Homo sapiens: one gene and its partners. The protein of the gene in region 2 purifies or fractionates together with the protein of the main gene of each other region. This does not show direct contact. Each region holds a gene or a part of one and is shown on either strand. Other genes may lie near its edges.

Evidence for each region.
Region 1: the proteins of PALM2AKAP2 (region 2) and LACC1 purify together in Homo sapiens (affinity purification with mass spectrometry; 3 studies listed by BioGRID and IntAct, with this or other methods). This does not show direct contact.
Region 3: the proteins of PALM2AKAP2 (region 2) and EIF2AK4 purify together in Homo sapiens (affinity purification with mass spectrometry; 2 studies listed by BioGRID and IntAct, with this or other methods). This does not show direct contact.

The regions. Positions count from the first base shown.
Region 1 is NC_000013.11:43,889,814-43,896,038, forward strand, and holds the end of LACC1 (purine nucleoside phosphorylase LACC1), read left to right. Parts: intron 1-300; coding exon 301-460; 3' UTR 461-461; exon of another isoform or gene 462-466; intron 467-1,635; coding exon of another isoform or gene 1,636-1,789; 3' UTR 1,790-4,119; downstream 4,120-6,225. UniProt on the Homo sapiens protein: Purine nucleoside enzyme that catalyzes the phosphorolysis of adenosine, guanosine and inosine nucleosides, yielding D-ribose 1-phosphate and the respective free bases, adenine, guanine and hypoxanthine.
Region 2 is NC_000009.12:110,153,728-110,162,423, forward strand, and holds part of PALM2AKAP2 (PALM2-AKAP2 protein isoform 3 (PALM2-AKAP2)), read left to right. Parts: exon of another isoform or gene 1-26; intron 27-1,352; exon of another isoform or gene 1,353-2,476; intron 2,477-2,591; coding exon 2,592-2,770; intron 2,771-8,366; coding exon 8,367-8,405; intron 8,406-8,696. UniProt on the Homo sapiens protein: Binds to regulatory subunit (RII) of protein kinase A. May be involved in establishing polarity in signaling systems or in integrating PKA-RII isoforms with downstream effectors to capture, amplify and focus diffuse, trans-cellular signals carried by cAMP.
Region 3 is NC_000015.10:39,929,387-39,938,196, forward strand, and holds the start of EIF2AK4 (eIF-2-alpha kinase GCN2), read left to right. Parts: upstream 1-4,728; 5' UTR 4,729-4,809; coding exon 4,810-4,953; intron 4,954-8,810. UniProt on the Homo sapiens protein: Metabolic-stress sensing protein kinase that phosphorylates the alpha subunit of eukaryotic translation initiation factor 2 (EIF2S1/eIF-2-alpha) in response to low amino acid availability.

The DNA of each region.
Region 1 (6,225 bases), on a different chromosome or scaffold from region 2:
TAGACATTTCTTCTTAAATAAGCACTTGATTTTGATTATAAAATTCTGTACCTAGATTATGTCTATAAGACAATATGGAAGGTTGTACTGTGCATATATGAACTTAGGTGATAAATGCTGATAAAGTGTAGCATTTTTTTCCCTGACTAGTCCATGTTCTGTAAGTGAATAACAATATACATTGTTCTAGGTACATCTTTCCTGGAACTTTTTCATGCCAACATCCATACTTTTTTTCATATTGCTTTGGCTATTGGGAAAATAAACTCTTGCTCTCTTTTGAAAAATATTTTTCCTAAGGATTCTTCTAGAACAGGGAGGAATTCTTCCACAGAATATTCAGGACCAGAACCAAGATCTCAACCTCTGTACATCTTGCCATCCTGACAAGTTTTTCTCCCATGTCCGAGATGGCCTTAATTTTGGTACACAGATTGGCTTCATATCAATTAAAGAATGAGGTACAGTAGGTTTTCTCTCCTCTCTCCGTTTTTCCTCTCTTTCATCCCTCTCTCCACTTCTCCCTCCCTTTCTCTTTCTTCCTCTTTTAGCCTATTCCTCCCCTTATTTAAAAAAAAAAAGTTAATTATGTTAAACTTTACTCCTTTATTCCTACAGGGAGAATGATGTTTCTACTTTTTTAGTGATGTAATAGTGGTAGCAACGTTCATTTCCAATAACACTCTATTATGAAGAGCAGCCACTCCTTTTCCTAGTTAATGAAGAATAATTAGGCAGGCTTATGTTAAAAGTATAAAAATAAAACAATTTAATCTTTAAAAAGGTATGTAAGTATTTCCTTTCTCTCTACTATGTACTTGATATCTGTACATTCCCTATCCTCACATCCTTATAACTTTCATGTTATTTTTGAAAACAAATCTTTGCATAAACATTCTGAATTCTAGAATCATAAGAAATTCTCACAAAGAAACTAGCTTGATTTTCAACTAGATTTCCAAATGATTATCTGCAGTTGGAGTTGCCCAAATTTTTATTTTAAAATGACAGTAAGTAGTTTAGACTTTGTGGGACATACAGTATATCTCAGCTACTCAGCTTCGCCATTGTAGAGGTAGAGCAACAAGAGATACTGACAACATAGAGATGAATGAATATGTCCGTGTTCCAATAAAACTTTGTTTACAAAAATCAGGCGAGGGAGCCAGGCACAGTGGCCCTGCTCCTGTAGTCCCAGCTCCTCGGGAGGCTGAGGTGGGAGGACTGCTTTAGGCCAGGAGTTTGAGTACAGCATGGATAACATAAACCCTGTCTGTAAACAGTAAAATAAACAGGTAAGGGGCCAGATTTGGCCTATAGGCTATAGTACACTGACACATGATCTAAAGTCATACAGCAAGACTGAGTGTAATTTTCTTAAAATAGTATTTATTAGAGATGGTTTTGTTGGAATTATACAAAAATATTTCATGGCACTGATTTAGCACTGCCCCTATAAGATATGTGTAATTTTCCCTAAGGTTACTTCTAGCTGAATTAATATTATTTTTTACTCTTTACAATGTTTTTAGCTCTTTAACTTACAGAAAAACTTTAATAGACTTCATGACTCTTACCTTGATATTCTAATAACACCAGTAAGCGTCTCATATTTGATTTCTATGTATTTTACAGATACTTGACTGGATTTTTGTATAACTGCTTCCTGCCTCCTTCCAAACTGACTGCAAGAGAGAAATTTAGCTGTTTGATTTACTTAAAACCAAATGGATTACAATGGATAATTCATCTTTTGGGTATATTTTTACTATTATTCAAAGCCAAATGATTTTCATTTAATTGTAATAATAACTGACAAAAATCAGTATGTTGTAGCTAATATGTTTTATGCATGAGAATTATTCTTAAAGTTTGTTCTCCCTGTTTATTACACAGATCAGGAATAGATTTGTTCAGTTCAGTATTTATTGGATACCCTCTATTGGTCAGGCATTGTGTTAAGCATATGTGAATCAAAATGAACACAACTTTTTCCTTTGAGTCTGATACAGTGAAGGAGATAAACACTTCTACAACTTAAATTTAATTTTAATAGCAGTAGAAGAGAACATAAGGAATAGAGGTTAATTTTACCCAGAAGCAGGATAGAGAAAATATTACAGAGAAAATCACATATCACATGGGCTCGAAAGATGTAGAGGTTTTTGACAAATGAAGAACAACCATAACAGGTAGAGGGAACACCATGAACCAGGGCATGAAACTGAAAGTGCATAACATATTCTAGAGAGAGAAGGGTGTGGGCATGAGTTAGGGCTGGAAAAACAGGTTGGAAACAGATAAGTAAGGGTCTCAAATGCAATGTCAAAGAGCTTGCAGTTTATTTTCCAGGCAATGAGTAGGCAGCCAAAAAAAAAAAAGTAAGGATGTTTTTTTTTTTTTTCCCATGGCATCATATTTAAGAGGATGGATTTAAATTGTGTGAGACCAAAGCATAGAGACTAGATAAGAGGCGATCAAAATATTTCAAAAAGAAATAATGAAGATCCAATGAAGGAAGTGGAAATTAAAATAGGGAAGAGAGTAGATGGATTAGAGAGACATTTAAGAGATGGAATCAATAGATCCTGTTACTAGATAATGGAAGTAAGAGGTGAGGAAGAGTGGAAAAGTCATTAATGACTCTAAGATTTCTGCTTGGCTGCTTACCAAGATTGGCAACAAAGGGAGGGAGAAGGTTTGGAAAAAGAGAGAAGGATAATGAGTTTGACTTTACATAGAATGAAGGGCATCCAGATAGAAATCTTTGGTTAATAATTAGAAATATAGACCTAGAAATTAGGAGGAAACCTGAGACAGAGACAAATATTTCAAAGCTTACAATACAGAGATGATACCTGATTCTATTGGAGCAGGTTTGATCATCTAGGCAGAAATTAGGATGAGAAAAAAGGAGATCCAATAATACAACCTTATAGTCACAGAAGTAAGAAAAAAAGGGTAGTTGTTTTGAAGAAGCCAGGATAGGTGTGGAAAGTACTCAAAAAGAAATCTTCAGGGATAAAATAAAGTGATAATTTAAAAGAAATCAATGGATTAAACATATTGAAACTGTTCTATAGGCAGTGGTCATTGAGTCAGCTTTCAGTGCATTAGGAAGAAGATGCATAGGTGTCAACTCTTTTCTGACAGCATTTACTAGAGAAGAGAAAAAGCTGGGGACTACATCTTCAAGGAAGGGACTTTTTTTGGATGAGCAGTTTTGAGTGTGTTTGTCAGTTAAAGAGAGGAATTAGGTTAGTTTTCATTTGGGAAAAATTGTATATATATTTAATGTAAGTTATCACATTGCATCTTAAAAATATTCTTATTTAATACATATATTTCCTACATGTATATGTGGTAGCATGATAGCAAATAACATTTGTTTGGTATTTCCAAAGGACTTTCATGTACATTGCCTCATTTTACCTTTACAGCTACTCTGAAATACACAGGCATTATCCCTTTTATTCAGCTGAGAAAACTGAGCTTCATTGAGGTGGAGGTCAAAAATCACAAAATTTGTGATGAATTAAGATTTGAACATATGTTTTGTGACTCCAGTTTTCCTTTCAGATTTTAAAATTAATTAAAGGGATCTTCATTATACTTTTATTGTTAACTTTTTGTTAACATAATTTATTCATACATTCAGTGAAAATTTTGTTGAGGTACTGGGACAGGTTAAAAAATACAGTTGTAGCCCTCAGGATATTTAATATCCAGTGAAAAGTGACAGTCAGTAAACCAACAATCTCAATACTTTGATATATGTTGTGAGGTTGTGATAACCGATTCTTGTTTAGTTTAATTCTATATCTCCCTTAGACCAGTGTTAAATTTAAATAAAACACCTCATTTTTTCCAATTCAGGGAAGGCACTAAACATAAAGCATAGGATAGAAATGTTGAACTCATCCAAAATATTATTTTGTTTAATGAAAATGATGAAGATTAAGGAATACTTCCATGTATTGAGTAAGGTTGATAATTTTCTAATTCTTCACTGTGCATTATTTTGTTTGAAGTTGGTAAATTTGGAGTATCCTGCAGACACATTTTGCTTTATGTACTACAACATTCTACAACCAAATAAAAATTATTTTGATTATCTGATTTTGGATTATCTCTGCCAAAGTATATAATGAAAGGTTGTCTCCTTGCTGCTTTACTGAATGAAAAGTGTTGATTTAGTAACTCCAAACTATCAGGTTATTAAATAATCATCTTATTGTGTCTACAAGATAGCTGTCACTCTCACATATTTGTATGTAGGTTTCTAGGACTTTTGGGGTACAACAACAAAGATTTCTAGTAAGTTTTGTTTTTGTTTTTAATTTTATTTTAAATTTATAAATAACAATGGTACCTATTCATGAGATACATAATAATGTTTCCATTCATATAATGTACAGTGATCTGACCAAGGTAATTAGCATATCTATCATTTCGAACATTTTTCTTTGTGTTACGAACATTTAATATGTTCCTTCCAGCTATTTCAAACTATATAATATACTATTGTTAACTATAGTTATCCTACAGTGGTATAGAACACTAGAACTTATTCCTCTTAAAGTTTTGTTTTTAATCTAAGCACTGCTACTAACTGCACATAGGAAATATTGATTGCTATTTTATTAATAAGGGGAATTAAGTTTGTAAGTCAAATAAACATTAATGAAATACCTTTTTGAAAATACTATCAAACTAAAACTTACTGGGCCATTTATCCAACTGTAATTTTAAATTGTGAAAAATAGCACAGTGGCCAAATATGCTATACCCCAGTGCTTTATAAAACAAATAAGATGACCTTACCACTAGGAGGTGGTATTTCAACAAGTAGCTCTACTATTATTTCTTGGTATAAAGTTGAACTAATCTTTTTTTTTTTTGAAAAAAATCAACTTTATTTTTTCTAGGTTTAAAAAAATAGAACCAGCTATTAATTTTTGTTGAGAAAATGCATCTTTTGGTGTTCACATCTAAATTTCTGAAAAGGTGATCTGGTTACTAAAATCATCCCAAATACATTCATAAACCAGATCCACGTGTGACCAGCCCTTTACAAAAATTAATTACAGTTGCCACAGCCTTTACATTCATTCTTATCACACGTTACAACATGCAGATAACACAAAGAAAGGTCAACAAGCTGAAGTAAACATTACAGCATCAGGAAAATGAAAACCCATCTGTATAAAATAAATACAATTTTGTAATAACTGTAAAGAAAATGAAAGCACTTAATAAAAATAATGGCAGTTGAATGTATAACTGTCTCATCTCCCAATCATAAAATAAGTTACTGTAAAATGCATAGACTCCTTACACTTAAAGAATTTGTGCATCACAGTCATGTGAAGTTGAACTAATCTTAAACTCTGTATTTTCTTGTGGAATAAAAAGGGAGGGGAGGACGCATTTAAAGTTAGTGAATGTATTGCTCTTACTTTAGGTATAACGTGGTAGTTCAAGTAGATAAAAGCATTTAGGAACCCTCACCCACTTCTATCTCACTCCTACAGAATCTCTAGTAATTGCTTTTCTGTAAGTAGATTTTTGGGAGAAACTCAGAGAAGCTTATTCTATGTAACATGACAAAACAGAAATAATATCTATATATTCAGCAGCTGGAAGGAAAGATAACAGTGACATACGAGTTATATGCTTTTATATCTCAAAGTGGGATTTGATATTTATTTTTACTTGATTGTCCTAGAGTTATACTTCCAATGTATCCATCTTACTTTTTGTGTGAACTCTTAGAGAATGCTACCAATCTATGAAAGTTCAGCACTTTAAAGAAAGCATTACTCAGTTATTGTGTGTTATCGTGTTTGTATGCATGAGTCTTTGTGTATGTGCTAAATGGCAAATAAGAAATATGTGTGTTAAATATGACACATAGCCTTTTTGCCCTAGCTAATATAAATTAACACACACATAACACATTGGATGCAGTAGAATAATAGATTTCTCTCTATAGATTTTTTAATAAATTATGCAGTAAAGAATGGAAAGCATGGTCCATATGCTTACTGGATGTGTTTGTGTGAACCCTGATCTAGGGCACGTGCATTTCCATTGTAGGCAGTGTTTTTAAAGTTTACTTGTGATTTCAAAGATTGCCATAAGCAATGCATTGTTCTGTGCTAGGTCATTGCTTAATGAAGAAAAAAGAAATCTGCCAGTACTGCTTTTTCCAGATTAACACGT
Region 2 (8,696 bases):
AATGAATTAAGGGGATTCATAGACAGGTGAAACATACCCCCCTGTCCTCAGGATGACATTATAGCTTAATTGAGAAGACAAAAGCTTCAATAGCCAGATAAGATTTAAGTCAGTATGTGAAAATGGCCTTCACAGAAATATAAACAGGAGTTCCACTGTGCTGTGTGTGAAAGGGAGAAGCTAGAAGCAATGAATATAGGCTGTGCTTTCTAGGTGTTTAACTCTGGAAGAGTGGCTGGTGGGAAGTGATCTGGACACTTGAGAGGTCAACTGGAAAATGATGAAAATTAACCTGGTAATTGGTGTCTATTTCTGGTCCCAGAAGAGATGCAAAAATTTTATGCAGAATATGCATGAAATTGTTCATCTCACCCTATAGTCACATTATTCTTTGAGATTCCAATTAAGTGGTAGCTAGAATCATTAGATGCTTTCTGTTCTGAATATTAACCTTATAAATATTAACTTTGTCCTCATAATAACTATCTGAGGGTAGGTACCCTTATCATCATACCCATTTTACTGATGAGGAAACTAAGATATCAAAAGAGTAAGTAACTTGCCCAAAGTGATTTGGCTGCCAAGTCATGGATTCAAGCCCAAACCGGCTGGCTCCAGAGCTTACACGCTCACCACTGTGCTATATTGTTTCTTAAGCCTTCAATTAAAAAGTCAATCGGAATTTTCAGAGATACATACTAAGTGTGCAGGAGTGAGGTGACCTGAGGTCTGGGATTGGTTTAAAATAATTCAGCAAGTCTAAGGAAGGAAGGAAGAGCCAATTATGCTAAAATCTTGATAAATGTTTACTCTGGGTGATGTTTATAATGTTTATAGGGGTCATTATAGCATTCCCTAATTTCCGTAATAAAAAATAGGAACTGTTTCTAGTGAACTTGGAGATTTTGAAATACTTATTATTGTACTGTTAATATCAAAAGACTTTTCAGTTATCTGGGTAATTTAGATCAAAGCAACAAATTTCACTGTTATTAATGTAATGTGGCCATGAAATGCAGTGCCCTTTTCTGTATATTAAAACCTATTTTCCACCTAATCCCCAAGTGTAACAGCTAAATACCTTAAAAAAAATCAAGAAGGGTGTATCCTGCCAAACATATTTGATAGAATAGCAAAACGTTTGAGTTAGAAGAGACCACAAAGATAACTTCTTCCAAAATTCCCATTTAACCGCTATGGCAGTTAAAGCTAGGAGAATTTAAGTGATCAGCCCACGATTGAAATGGGAATATGAAACGATGATCTATAGTCAGTCACGTAGCCAAGTACTGGAAGAGCAGGAGTTAAAAACCTGGGTTTCCTGGACTCCAGGCCTTTGTATCTCTCATCAGAAGGAGGTTGTGCCAGTAAAGGGCTAAGCAGCCCATATGGAAATGTGGACACCAGGCTTCACTTGTGATTCCTGCTACATCAGGCAGTTGCCAAGTTAGAAGCCTGGGATGTAAGATGAAGAAAGGTGAGTCCCCTTCGGCTTGGAACTGGAAGAGGTCAAATGGCCCTTTCCCCTCCCAAACGGAGCCATGCAAGCCCCATTTATCTTGTGTGTTTTATCCACATTCCTTGTTCACAGGTTTTAGCCGCATCAACCACAAAGGGCATAATTGGAAAAATCATAATTGTTATACTTGAAGATACTTCTCAGAAGTGCATTTGGGGCTCTGTGTCAATAAACCCACCCCATGAAGGGCCAGAAGCCAGGGCCAGGCATTTCTTGGGAGGGAGGGATGGAAATGGTCTTGGTGAGGGTGCGTAGAGTCACCACACCACTGTTGAATTAATCACTGACCTCATCTCTCCATCCTGAGGATTCTTGGAGGACATTGCGAGAGCTAAAATCTCCTCATTCCCAAGGCTGGTGTGCACCTTTTCCATTGCCTTTGTTGGTGTACACTTCTTAAGGTCTGGGAGGCCTCAAACCCCAATGTTTCAGGACCCCAGCAGGTGAGGTAAATGAATAAAGCTGGCCAGTGTAAGACCGGGGCAAACTGAGAAGAACAAACTTCATCCTTATTCAAAGGTTTTATAACACTGGGCTGTCTGCACAAAAAGCCTGGGCAGGTCAGCAGACAATTGACTTCCTCTGCTATAGAGGATAGACCCTGGTGAGGAAAGCAGGAGGCCTGGGTACCATCACTGGCTCCCTATGACTTGAGTACAGCCTTCCCTTGGCAGAGCCTCAAGCGCTTTCATCTGTTAAGAAGTGGGTCTGTGAGTCTCCAAGGTGCCACCACCTCTGACAGTCTAATTCTGTGATCTGTGATAGAATACATATCTCAAAACAACTGGAGCCACTGTCGGTCTGTCCAACATATATTTGCAAAATGCGTGCTGTGCCTGTTTGATCTAACTGACTTTTTGGAACTTGGTGTCCTTGAGATCTTTGGATGGGTTTGTGCATTAACCTTAAGTGCTTTGATCCCTGTAATATAATAAAATGGCCTACACTTAACCATCATTCTGGTACCACTCTCTGTGTCAGAGGTTGTTGCTCTTTTATTTGCCAGTTTTCTTTCTAAAAGCAGTCATGAGCAGACAAGCTTAGAAAGGGTATTTTCTTCGTGTTGTTTCAGGGAAAATAGAGAAAGTCAAACCTCCTCCATCCCCCACCACTGAAGGCCCCAGCTTGCAGCCTGACTTAGCCCCTGAAGAGGCTGCCGGAACCCAGCGGCCCAAGAATCTGATGCAGACCCTCATGGAAGACTATGAGACACACAAATCTAAAAGGCGCGAGAGAATGGATGATAGTAGTGTAAGTTTTTCCTCCTTTCCTCTTTCACTTCTCTGAGCGCGGCCATCGGTGTGGCGTGTGGCATTCCAGTTCAGGCACAAATGTGTATGTCGTTGTCTGGTCAGCATTAGGGTTCCAGTATCAGTTTTCATATATGTGGTTTCACATGCCTGGAACTGGGTTTGGGTTTTTGCCTGTTTCAAAAAAAAATTGTTGATCTTGCAGGGAGCTGGTCCTTTGCTGCCAAGTATAGCTGGAGTCGACCAGCAAGGCTAGTGTGTAAGATGTTTGGTGCATAGAAAGACAGCATGCAAGGGCCACGCAGGGAGAAGGTTGCAAGTGCCCTGAAATCATCCCTATGCACCTGGGAGCTGATTTCTACCATTGCCCAGTAGAGATTTTATTTCTCTAGAAAAGGATGAAGATGCTGTTCCTTCAAAGCCGACACTCTAGGCAATCCCTAACAATGTTACAGTGCTTAAAAGACTGAGTGTGTTTGGGGCTGTTAACAAGCCCATGTGCATAGCTTGAAAGCAAAGAGCCAGTGAAAATGACAGTTGAAAACCACATGGCTACTCTGCTACACCCAAGCCCTCGGAACTTTGCACATAACGTTCAAATTAACTGTGAAGGAAGTCACATGCTCTGTGGTTTCTTTCTCCGGTTAGAGACATAGGAACTGTTGCTCTACACAGTCCCAGGAGCCTGGAGATCAGCCTCAGGGTTCATGCCAACCTCCTGTGGGTCTTCTGGCACCAGTCTCTTAGCACATATTGAAGTCATCACCTCCTCCCCTGACTGCACTTAAGTCACAGATAGCTTGGGTTGGTTGAGGATCCTACTGAGTTTACCTGAGACAGTCCTGGCTTATGCCTGTTGTGGTGTTGTGGTTATTAATATCCCCTTCAACTCTTTTGTTGTTGTTGTTGTTGTTGTTGTTGAGACAGGGTCTGTCTCTGTCACCCAGGCTGGAATGCATTGATGTAATCATGGCTCATTGCAGCCTCGACCTCCTGGGTTCAGGCAATCCTCCCGCCTCAGCCTCCTGAATAGCTGGGACCACACGCGTATGCCACCATACCTGGCTTATTTTTTAACTTTTTTGTAGAAAGGAGGTCTCATTATGTTGCTCAGACTGTTCTTCAACTCCTGAGCTCAAGGGATACTCCCACCCCAGCCTCCTAAAGTGCTGGGATTACAGACATGAGCCACTGCACCCAGCCTGCCTTTCACTCTTGAAAGTGTCCCAGTTTGGGTGATAAACCATCTGGTCACCTTAAACTTGAATGCTATGAAGTTCACAGTAAGAATTCCCTGCTGTTTTATTGCCTTTTATATCCTAGCTGGCTAAGTTAAAGGATTTCTGGAGTTGAAGCCCAGATGCTGAAAGTTGCTTTCAAAATATATGGCGGTAAAGAAAGGAAGAAAGCAAATGGATATCTGGCAGCCTGGCTTCTCACTTGGCATCTCCCAGGCTTTCCCTTTTGTTTACACCTGAACTGCGTGGAGCACTGGCTCAGCTGCTGTATTAGGCTGCAGCTATTCTACTGGGCTCTTCACTGTATTAGACAGTGGGATGATGCCCGGCCCTGGGTAGCTGCTGCAGACATTTCCACTGCTGAACCTCACTGTAGGGGAGCCAGCAGCTCCTTTCGTGAGCCTGCAGGATTTTTCCCTGGCTACTCAGTCACTTTCACCAGCCCTTCTTTGAAGCCCCACTTCAAAGGATAAAGTTTGCCTTAAGAATTTTCTGAAAGTTAAATCATTTTGAAACTTGGTGCTCTAGGTGTCTGGTTTCTTTTCTCCCAGTGACTCTGCTCTATACATCAGCAGTTTTGGTAGAATTTAGCCAAGTGGGTGCCCCACACTCTGATGTGGATGGGGAAGAACAAGTAGAACCACTTAGCATGTGACCCACGCGAGTGTTTGCTGAACACACTCTACTTGTCACTTGTGTATGTCTTTTGTGTTGGAGTGCAGATGATAGGGAAAAATACTCCATACAGAAGGGTAGAGGCAGTTCTCACTCATTTCGTAAAGGCAGAGGGCTGGAAGCTCTTTTGTGCACACGCTGACACTCTGGCAGCCACCTAACAAATGCCAACCAGGTTGAGTTTTTCCTCTGCATGAATGAAGCTGCTTGGAATCAGCGTTTTAATATGCTGATTGCCCTTCACTTACAAATCAAAGAGGCAGCCTCCTGTCTCTATATTTTCCAGTAAATAAACATTTTGAAAAAGAAAGAGACCTAACTAATTAAGCTGTTAATATCCCTGGATCTTGGATTCAAAGCCAAATGTTTTGCACTGTTATTGCTATTACAACAGAACCAAGTTTGCTGTTGTTGAAAATTCTTAGGATCAGGACAAAATCTACCAATCCACTATATGCTCATTTAAGAGACCCAAATCTAAAACAACAAATTCAGATTGCTTCTAAAGCAAAGATATGATCATCAGTCAGGCTTCAAATGAGAGCCTTCTCCTAGCCCTTCCAATTTAGGGGACCTTTTCTCCTGTATCTGTGTCAATCACTGGTGAATGTGTTGAAGTTTACCTGTAGGGATGAACAAACATTCATTTTTTTCCTAACCAATCTGTGGCCCCTTTTCCATTTTTTCTTTTTCTTTAATACCAGAAGGATAGTAATAGAGAGCAGATGGATTGCTGGGGGGATGAGTTGTGTAACTGGCTTACCTATCCGTAGAAGCATAAAGTTAATTCTCTTAAAGGTAAAGTAATTCTGGTCTCTAGCCTCCATTTACATACACTATTCTCACAGAGAAACATGGCTTCTTAGACTCTCCACCCTCTAAGCACCTCAGTGGCTCACACCTACACACCCAGCATCTCCCCATGTTATGCAGCATCACCCCTGGCACCTCCATTTGCCAATATTTTTTCCAGTAAGCCACTTGGCAGCATTTTGGCATGCCGTTTTGGAGATGATAAACCACACCTGAGAATCAATGCCTGTCGCGTGATTAGAACACAACCATGTGTTTGCCCATCGAAAGTAACAGTTATTTGTGAATTGAGCAAAAATAATTCTTATTTTTTATTCTTTTTAAGGAGAAGGCAGAGTTAAAAACAAGACAGGCGCTGATCATTGGAATGTGTATAAAGTGTGATATGTTAGACACAATGGTATCGAGGAGAGTGAAAGACAGAAGGAGAAAGATAGAATGTAGCTACGGCTGAAGTTTTGCTGAGTGAGAAAAACTGATCTTTGCCATCAAAACAAGTTCAGTGTCCCCCGAGCCCCCATCAGGGGTGTGGTGGCCTCTGGGGTCCTGTCCACAGGGACTCAGCTCAGGGCCCTGCTCTCTCCAGTTTTCCACTTTATAAAAAGTCATATGCAGAGAGGCCCCTGGCTTATGGGAGTCAGGGAGTGGTGTTATCCAAAGGTTGTCCCCAACCAGCCATATTTGTTACTAGCTCAGAACTTGAGCAAAGTACTCCCTTTAGTTGCCACAGTCTTCACCCACCTGGGCTGATTTCTTTGTCCTGTATATTGGAGTCACCAATGAGTATCTCCAGCCTCACTTATTAATGGACCTCTTGGCTAATTCTGAGGGCAGGAGGATTACCATCCCCACCCCTACCCACTTACCCAAGGCTGTTTACCAACCTATGCAAGGCCTTTGTGTGAATTAGGAAAAAAAACCACCCTTGTTCCTCTATGAAGATATGAAGATGCAGCCCTGCACCAGCCACACATTTGGGGGGTAGAGTAGGGGACTGGGCTTTAGTACCATTCATCCCTTTAGTCTGATGCTTTTGTGCAGTGCACACAACACACACCCAGATGCAGCAATCCTATTCATATTGTGGGTTTCTCTTATCTGGAAATGTTCTCTTATGTGGAAATGTCCACTTATCTGGGTCTCATACCATTTCTGCTCAGTCATGCAATTCATAATGGACTAGTGAATCCTAGTTTCCTAAAGGGCTTCTTGATGCCTTGCAAAGCGACTGCCTCCAAGGTGGGGTTGCCCACTCATGGACCTGGAAGACATTTGGATCAGTGGGCACAAATGATGGGCTATTTGGATGTTTTTCCTTCAGGCATGAAGAACCCCTCTAGGAAACTCTGATTCATTAGTCCATCCTGAGTGACATGACTGTATTTAGGCAAACAGTATTTTTCCAGCCAATTGTTTCCCTAACCTGACCTGAGCCTCAGAAAGTGAAGATGATGGGTCATTGAGTCAATGATGCTCATGAACATCTCGAGGGTTTGCTTTGCCTTTCTCAGTTGAAGGGATGCTGACCAGAGTCCAAATCACAGCCTCCTGGATGTTCAGCCCCATCTTTACTTTTAGCGCAGGATCTGCCCTCAGTGGGGTTTTCCAGTGTGCTCTCTCTCTCTTTCTCATCCCATGACTTCATTACTGAGAGGTCATCCAACCACTCTGTCTCATCTTAGAACAAGAGAAGACCTCGTCGGTTTTCCTGGGCTACGTCAAAGCTGAGAGTTCCTGGCACACATTACCCTTCCAGACCAGGACATGCATTGAGAGTTGTGGCCATACTCTCGCTCAGTGTGTGAAGGAAGCCTATCTGCCTCCTGTTTCCCCAGACGCTACAGGAAGCTCAGTGATGCCTTGTGCTTCCCTAACTCTCTCTTACGTTCTCACTCGTACCCTAGTGAAGATGCAAAGGAGAGAGAAGAGCTCCTGACTTGTCAGCTCCCAGCCATTAGCCCAATCATGACAGAACTATAATTCCTAAGTGCTACATATAAGAAGCAGTCAGCAATCACAGATGTGTGATCCCACCTAACTAGTCTATGGCTATCAATGCCCCAAACCAATAAATGCTTTAAATGCCCCAAGCAGTGTAAATGTACGCTCATTACCATAATTCTGGAGAGGGATGTCCCAAATTGGTCCTGCCATCTCATTTTCCATAGTCAGGCCATTTTTTTCTGTACTTTGAGTAAGACTTTTAGTCCCCTATAGGAACTAAAGGATCATTTCAGTTCCTAAGTGCTCATACTAATAATCCTATATAATCACCAGAAATTGCTATCAAAGGATGATCCCACTCTCAGGAACTTACCCAGGCCCCCAGGGTTCTGACGAGGGAGGCTGTGTGGTCTCCCTAGGCAAGACTACCCTTAGGCCGGTTTCAGAGAATCTGCCTCCACAAACCAACTGCTGTGATTAGGATCTTCTTTTAATGGAACAACAGGTTACAAGACGGCTTTGGGGTTCAGAGAAGCCTACGGGAAGAGAAAAGGCTATTTGGCTACAGACTCTAGCAAATCCAAAATGGCCCCCAACGACCTTGCTGGTGGGCAGCTGATTGTGTACAGAGGGGAAGGAATCTTGTTAATTCAAAGTACAGAAACTGAAAGCAACGTTTTGAATTAACAAAGTACGGCTTATCTGATATTTTTATTAGTGAACAATAGGGTATCTAGTTGCTGCAAAGAATAGACTTATAAATAAACTAATATCAGATGGAGAAAGTTTTGGCATGGGTGTAGAATGGCCTCCTGGTATTACTTCCCCTCCCATCCTCTTCTGGTGTGGTGCCTGTTCCCGGCTAGGGGGTGTTCTGTAAGTGTGTCACTGCCATGTACTAACCCTGGTCTTTTCCCTCTCTGCCAGTACACTTCTAAGTTACTGTCTTGCAAGGTGACTTCCGAGGTACTTTTCAATTTGTTTGTCTTGGTCTTACTGAATGCATGATCCAGGTGCATGCTGTTGTGGTTTGCCATTTCCTGATGAGTTAAACGAAAATGGCAAGAAAAATGACTTGTCTCCATATGTATTTTTTTGTGCCTGTTCTGAAATATGGGACTGCCTCGAAATGTTGGAGTCCATGCAACAGTGATATACAATGGTGTGGTTTGCTGTGCTGTGCTGTGGGGGCGAGTGGGAGGGTACTGGGGAAGACCTTGCCTGCTCACGAATCTTGAAGACGTTTGGACCAGAGGA
Region 3 (8,810 bases), on a different chromosome or scaffold from region 2:
CCACTGCACTCCAGCCTGGGCAACAGAGCGAGACTCCGTCTCAAACAAAAACAAAAGCAAAAACAAAAACAAAAAACAACAACAAAAAAACTATCTTGAAAGTAGCCAAAGAGGAGTGCCACATTACCTTTAGTGGGAAAACAATGTGAATGATAACAGATTTCTCACTGAAACCATGTAGGTCAGAGAGAAATGGCACACTTTTCAAGTACTGAAAGAAAATAACAGTTGGCCCAGAATTCTATATTCAATGAAAATATCCTTCAAGAATGAAGGGGAAAGGGATTGCAGTTTTAAAATTTGGGAAACAGTGACCAAAATCTGAGAGCTTCTCTTTGGAACATCAAGGGCAAGCAGCAAGACCAGGAGATGTAGTTTGGGGGAGCAAGAAGGACATATAGGATTAGAGACTCTTCTTTGGAAGACTGATCTAAAGGTTTAGGAAGTACTTGGAGAAGAAGGAAATGTTGGGGTGTCCTGATGAGTTGGTTTGTGAACCCCAAGTATACAAAGACATCCTTATGAGGCAGAATGTCTCAAGGACTTAGAGGTTATCTCCCAGGAGCCAGTCATGGGCAAATCTTTTCTTTGAAATATACGGAGTTTATACATCGCAAGCCTGCTTAGTTAACCCCGTATTGCACATACAGCAACCAAATGCAATGTGTGGACCTTGTTTGAATTTTGATTCAAACAAACCACTGTAAACAAAACAAAACAAAAAAATGACCTTTTCCTTTTTTCATTTAACAGTTTATTAAGGTATAGTAAACATATAACACATTGCATATATTTAAATTGTACAGTTTGATAAGTTTTGATATATGCATATACTTGTGACATGATCACCACAATCAAAATAATGAATGTATACAGACATCACTCCCAAGAGTTTCTTCTTGTTCCACTTTAATCCCTCCACCTGGCTCTTCTATGTCCTCCCTATCCCCAAGCAACCACTTATCTTCTTTCTGTTACCAAATTTGTATTTTTCAGAATTTTATGTAAATGGAATTATGTAGTGTGTACTCTATGTCGGCCTTCTTTCATTCGGCATAATTATTTTGAGTTTGTCTATGTTGTTGCTGTATCTATAATGTATTTCTTTTTATTGCTGAATAGTATTTCATTGTATTGATATACCTCAATTTGTTTATACTTCAATATGTCCATCTTGTGTTGGTGGGCATTTGGTTTGTTTCCAGTTTGGGGATATTACAAATTAAGGTGCTACAAATATTTACATACAAGTCATTGTATGGACATACGCTTTTGTTTCTCTTGGGTAAATGCCTGGGATGGAATTGCTGTTTCATATAGTAGGTATATGCTTAAGTTTTTAACTAAAATGGATGATAGGCCAAAAGGTAAAATCTAACACTATCTAGATGAAGACATAGAAGAAAACCTTTTTGGCCTTGGGATAGGCAAATATTTCTTAGATATGACTGCAAAACATAATTCATGTAAGAAAAAAATGACAAATTAAATGTCCTCTAAAGTAAGAAACATGCTCTTTGAAATACAGTTAAGAGAATGAAAAAGCAAGCCACAGACTGGGTGAATATTTTTGCCTGTCACATATCTGATAAAAGACATGTCCGGCCTGGTGCAGTGGCCTACACCTGTAATTCCAGCACTTTGGGAGGCTGAGGCGAGCAGATCACGAGGTCAGGAGTTCAAGACCAGCCTGGCCAACATGGTGAAACCCCGTCACTACTAAAACTACAAAAATTAGCTGGGCGTGGTGGCATATGCCTGTAATCCCAGCTACTCGGGAGGCTGAGGCAGGAGAACTGCTTGAACCCGGGAGGCAGAGGTTGCAGTGAGCTGCGATCGCACCACTGCACTCCAGCCTCGGTGACAGAGTGAGATTCCATCTCAAAAAAAAAAAAAAAAATACATGTCCAGAATATATAAATATTTCTCAAAAGTTAATAAGAAAACAAAAACAAAATTTTTAAAATGCACCAAAGATGTGAATAAAAACAGAAGACAGACGATATATGAATGGAAAATAATCACATGAAAAGATGCCCAACATCATTAATCATTAGGATAATGCAAGTTAAGACACACTGAGATACTGCTAAGCACCAATTACTATGTTTAAGATTAAAAACATTACAATACCAATTACTGGCAAAGAGGTAGAACAACTGGAACTCCCATAAACTGATGGGAATATAAAGTGGTACAACCACTTTGGAAAACACTTTGACAGTTTCTTATTTTTTTTGCTTTGAACTTTGACTTTAAAATAATTTCCAACTTACATAAAATTTTCAAGTCACTCAAAGAGCTCTCATATATCCTTCACCTAAATTCTCCAATGTTCAACATTCTACATTTGATTTAGCATCATCTCTCTTCTTTTTCCTGAATCATTTGGGAGCTAACTGCATATTTAATACGTCACTGCCCCCTTAATGCTGCATTTGGTATAATACTGCCATGTAATCCACAGATTCCTTTCAAATTTTGCTGTTTGTTTTAATTATATCTTTTATAGGTCCAGCGTCCAGTATAGATTCTAATTTTACACAATGGAAATATTTGAACATAGATTAGGTATTAAACGATGCTAAGAAATTGTTAATTTTTTTTTAAGAGACAAGGTCTTACTCTGTTGCCCAGATTGGAGTGCAGTGGTGCAATCACAGCTCACTGCAGCCTTGGACTCCTGGGCTCAAGCAATCCTCCCACTCAGCCTCCTGAGGGTGGGACTACATGTCACCTCGTCCAGCTAATTTTTTATTTTATTTTTTGTAGAGATGGGGCCTCGCTATGTTGCCCAGGCTGGTCTCAAACTCCTGGCCTCAAGTGATCCTCCACCTTGTGCTGGGATTACAGGTGTGAGCCACTGTCCCTGGCCAAAGGGTTACATTTTTAGGGTATAAGATTAGTAATATGTTATGTTGGTTCCTTTTCTAGTTAGAGATATATCCTTAGGTATTTATTTTTTAAAATGATATGATTGAGACTTAAAAAAAACACTCCTGAGGGATGGAGAGAAGAGATGAAATAAAATTGACAAAATATCTATGGTTGTTGAAGCTGGATGATGAGTACAGAGGAGTTTACTTCTAAGTATGTTTGACATTTTCATAAATATAGGTTTAAAAGAATTTTTTTAAAGACCAATAGAGAAATGGAGTAATTTTAAGGATTAGAGTGCAATGGCCATATTTGCAATTTAGAAACATTACTCTGGCTGCAATAGGAAGAATGGCTTAATGTGGGGCAAGAATGAAGACAGTGACTAATTAAGAGAGTTATTGAAGTAACCCAGGGAATTGGTGACAGTAGCCTGAACTAAGTTAGTGGCAATGGGTTAGAGTGTAGTGGATGGACAGAAGTGGTGACTATTTGGATGTGAGTTGAGAGAAAGGGAATTCAGAATCACACTCAGTTGAATGGTGCCATTTACCTAGTCAGAGATCACTGGAGAAGGAACGGGTCTCCAGCAGAGGGAAGATGATGATTTAAATTGGCCTTGGGTCAAGCTAGTGCATTTGTGTTATCTGGCCAGAAATGAGTGGATAGATGGCAGCAAGGAATTTACACAATCATTATTTAGTGAACAGTGGAGGAGTAAGCAAGGTAGACAGAAGAAACGTCACTTAAACCTAACTTGGGTTAGTACAATAGGATTATTCGAAATGGACATGCAGCATTAGTAAGTTACTGAAGATGAAGTGCAATAACAATGTCTGGGTAGACAGGTTATTATTTTATAAACTTGAAAAACGACGACTTGAGGCAGGATATAACACAAAGACTCCCTAAATTCACACTGAGTGAACTGGGAAGGGAACATGATTCTCTTCATGGGAAGGTAGCTCATAAAGATGCCTGAGTGGAAAGACAGTTTTCAATTGAATTTGCAAGGTGGTAGTGGAGATCCCCAAAGCTGGGGAATGTAGAGACAGAGAACATAATGAGGGTGTTGAATCTGTGGCTCAGAGAATAAGTTTGGGGGTACTAAAGTGGGAGGAAGGAGGGTGGGGGGGGTCACAATTTTTACTCCCGGTAGTCTTGTTCTGGGAAGGTACAAGGTGAAATTAGAAGTGACCTCAGAACCCATCGACGTCTGCCCTTTAAGAGTTTCCCGGCCGGGCGCGGTGGCTCATGCCTGTAATCCCAGCACTTTGGAAGGCCGAGGCGGGCGGATCACAAGGTCAGGAGATCGAGAACATCTTGGCCAACATGGTGAAACACCATCTCTACTAAAAATAGAAAAATTAGCCGGGCGTGGTGGTGCGCGCCTGTAGTCCCAGCTACTCTGGAGGCTGACGCAGGAGAATCGCGTGAACCCGGCAGGCGGAAGTTGCAGTGAGCCGAGATCGCGCCACTGCACTCCAGCCTGGGGAACAAGAGCCGAAACTCTGCCAAAAAAAAGAAAAAAGAGTTTCCCGCACTAGCCATGCCAGGGTGGAGAAGTTCCAGCAAGCACTTCTGTTAAAGATACTTGTTTCGTGAAAACTATACAATGTGGCGTTTTCATTCCTATCTGTGATTCATTTCTTAAGTTCGTGGAGTTCCTTTGCTCCCCTTCCCCCAGCAGGATGTGGGCAAAGCTGTCCCCCTGCCTTCTTCCTTCGCCTGGGCTTCTGGAGCCTCCGGAGCTAGCTCCCGGCGCGGAGCTCCGCCTACGGCCCGTCCCCGGCGCGGAACCCCGCCCACGAGCCCGTTTCCAGCGTGGAACACCGCCCATAGCCCGTCCCCAGCGCGGAGCCCCGCCCCGCAGGCTGCCGGGGGCCCACCGCCGCCCAGGCAAGGCCGCCCTGCCTTGGGCGCAGCGCTGCCATGGCTGGGGGCCGTGGGGCCCCCGGGCGCGGCCGGGACGAGCCTCCGGAGAGCTACCCGCAACGACAGGACCACGAGCTACAGGCCCTGGAGGCCATTTACGGCGCGGACTTCCAAGACCTGCGGCCGGACGCTTGCGGACCGGTAGGAACGTGGCTTGTCAGGCCCGGGCTGGCGTGCCCTGGCCTCCCCGGGCCCTGGGCCAAAGCCCGGACACTTCCAGATTGGGCCGCCGCTTTAGGATCCTGCAGTCTTTTCATCCCTTAGGTTCCACCCATGCTCACTTTAGTCCTTGCACCTGCAGCTGGTCTGCAGAATCCCACCTAGGCCGAATTCTTCTACAGTCCTTTCCCCATGATTTCCCCAGAGGAATCCCCCTGGATTCCTCCCTCTTACCTGGCACTGCTTCTTATTCCTGCCTACATCCCATAACATAACTGCCTCCTTCCAACCTTGTCCTTTTTCCCCTCTGAAAGCCCTTGCGGATGATACCACAGCAATTCATACGCGCCCCTTGCTACTTTGTTCTGAGAACGCTTTTTGGGCTCTCGCACAGGCCTTACGTCCTCAATCAGAATTCTCAAGTCTCATCCATGCATTCAAATCTGCACGCCACATAATTCCCTCTGTACTCCCCAGGCATCCTCACTGTGTTTTCCGGTATGGAGGAACTTTCCATACCTCTGCACCTTCCTCTAAGACATTTAGCTCAGAATAAAGCACACATTCATCTTAGCTGTAGTAGAGAGAGGGTTCTAGACTGAGTCTAGAGAAGGAGTGTCCAATCTTTTGGCTTCCCTGGGCCACACACAAAATACACTAACACTAAGGATAGCTGATGACCTAAAAGAAAAAAAAAATTCGCAAAAAAACCTCAATGTTTTAAGAAAGTTTACGAATGCGTGTTGGGCCACATTCAAAGCGGCCCATGGGCCTCGGGTTAGACCAGCTTGCTCTAGCTCTAGACCTTTTAAAATGGCATTTTGTTTAAAATAATATTTTGCCTTTTTGTCTGGAAATTAAGGCACGTTATAAAGTATTTATACTGACAGTTTTTTCCCCATCCTTGAAGAGTTGATCTACCAAACTATTTCTGAATATTATCATATTATCATTTAAAACATAGTTCTAACTTCATCTGCTTTTTTTTTTTTTCTTTTTGAGACAGGGTCTTGCTCTGTCTCCCAAGCTGGAGTGCAGAGGCATGACCACGGCTCACTGCAGCTTATTCTCAAGCAATCCTTCTGCCTCAGCCTGTCAAGTACCTGGGACTACAGGCACATGCCACTACACCTGGTTAATTTTTTTAATTTTTTGTAGAGACAGAGTCTTGCTCTGTTGCCCGGGCTGGTATCAAGTTCCTGAGCTCATGCAATCCTCTCACCTTGGCCTCTGAAAGTGCTGGGATTACAGGTGTGGGCCACCGCGCCTGGCCTCTTCATCTGCTTTTAACTTTGGCATTTCACAACATCTGCTCTATCTACACATCCAGGATTTCCTCAAGAAATACCATCTTCTGGAGCTATCAGGACAAAATATTCTCTCTCAAACTCAGGGTGCTTCTTCCTTCATTAAATATTTGTTTTAGGCATTAGGAATACAGCTGTGGGCAAAACAGACAAAAATCCTTGCCCTCAGGGAGCTTACTTTTCTAATGCTTAATAATATGAAGTTATTTTTAACCTGAAATGGTAAAAATATAAATTATTCCCCTTAACATGACAGAGAAGTTGGTGACTGGGGAACTTCTATCTTCCCAAACCTTGAGAATCAGGAAGTAGGCCCAAGAAGCAGCCAAAATAGGTGTCTCAAAGTGTACATGGGACTCAACACAAAGCTCCTAAGGCTTCATTCTGAACTAGTTTGTTTACTTTATACAAGCTTAGTTGTCTGCTCCTAGGGCTGCAGAAAAATGGAAGAGAAAAAGCAACTTCTTTTAGGTAGGGATATTGATAACCTCAAGAATTTATAGCTGGTGGCTTTCATAACAAGATGGAATACTAGACAAACCAAAGCAAAAACTATAGAAGGCAGGCAGAAGAATTTAAATAGCTGTCTGTGGCCTATTGTACACCGGGCAAATGGCCTCAACACATTCATAGGACTGGCAGGCAAATAATTGATGGTCTCAAGGATGAATCAGAGTTTAGTCATTCAACAAGCACTTATTATCACCTGCTATTTGCCAGGGAAAAGTGATGCAGGTCCAAAATCCTTTATCCAAAACTCTTTATTGAGAGGGAGTTTCTCTCTGTCGCCCGGGCTGGAGTGCGGTGGAGCAATCTCGGCTCACTGCAACCTCCACCTCCCAGGTTCAAGCGATTCTTGTGCCTCAGCCTCCTGAGCAGCTGGGATTACAGGTACCCGCCTCCACACCTGGCTAATTTTTGTATTTTTAGTAGAGATGGAGTTTCATTATGTTGGCCAGGCTGGTCTCGAATTCCTGACCTCAAGTCCTCCCGCCTCGCCTCCCAAAGTCCTGGGATTACAGGTGTGAGCCACCGTGCCCAGCCTTTTATCCAAAACTCTTGAGACTTGATGGGTTTCAGAATTCAGAAGTGCTTCTGTTCACGTTTATGTGTGCACATTCCACACATTACCTAATACCTTCCTCAGTGTCTGGGGCAGCATCGAAAATCAAACACAATGAAACATAGAAATACTCAAATTTCACACTGAACAAATAAACACTATAACTAACCTCATGTCAGTTCAGGCTAAATTTGCTGCCAATAAATTCAGGTTAGATTTTTTTTTCAACTTCTTTTAGTGGGGATGTGTTGTAATATAAATTTCAGTTTAGTAGCATATGTATATCATTTATAAATAACATTTTGAGGTGCATGCTAAAAACTTTTGCATTTGTAAAAAGTTTAGACACTGCTAGTTTAAAGTATCTATAATTTATAGATAGTTACAAATTACTAACTTATTTTGGCTAGCTTTCCACAGCAGCAAAAGGTCTGCTCATTTATAATTTGATAGCTTTTGGAAACATCCCTCCAAAAAACTTGCTTCAATCCCTGGATCCCCCAGTAGTGTATGGTGGTGTTTGTTTTCCTTTATCTTCAACAATACTATATATGTTAGACTTTTTCATCTTTGCCACATAAATGAAACATATCTCATTTTAATTTTTATTTATTTATAAATTATCTAGAACACCTTTGTTTACAAACCATTGATTTTTCTTTTTCTGTGAACTGCTCATACTCTGGTTTATTTTTCTACTCTGTGGTCCATTTTCTTGTTTATTTGTAAGAGCTAAATATCTTAAGAAAACTAGCATTTTGGGTCATATAATGCATATATTTTTCTCCTAATTATATGCATTTATTTACGTAATTTATGTGATTTAAAAAATGTTGATAGAGTCAAAATGACCTTTTTTTTCTTTTATGGTCCCTGTGGGTTTTTTTTCCCCCTCTGTTCCAATGTTACTAAAAACCAAATTCGTCAAAGTTTACTTTTAACTTGTTCATGACTTCGTTTTTAAATTTTCATCAAATAAAGATATAAGTAGGTTTTTTTTTTTAAGTTCTTCGTTCCATCAAAGTACGGGCCTAGGCCACCTCCCCGTGTGCATCCCTCCTCCTCCAGCTAGGCAGCTAGACAAATATAGGCAATTGAATTTTTCAGTGTCTTCCACTCATTTGAAATGCCATTCCTACAAGCCCAGTGCCTGGTAAAACAAACAAAAAACTTTCAAAAATTGTTACTGAATGAAATAATTCTCAAATGTATTTCAAGTCTCTTTTTTTCCTTGCCTGGAATGCTTGGTCTCTTGGCTTGTCTCAGCTTCAATGCTACATCCTCAGATAGTTCTTCTTTGATAACCACATTTAAGTATATACCCTCACACCCCAAGTCGTTTGTTAAGGAGAGCACCACGTCATCTCTTCAACGGCACTCTCTAAGCTTGTACTTATGTGTTTATTATGTTTGTTTTCCCCCACCAGACTGAAGTTCCATGAGAGCTGGAACCATATCTGTGTTCTCAC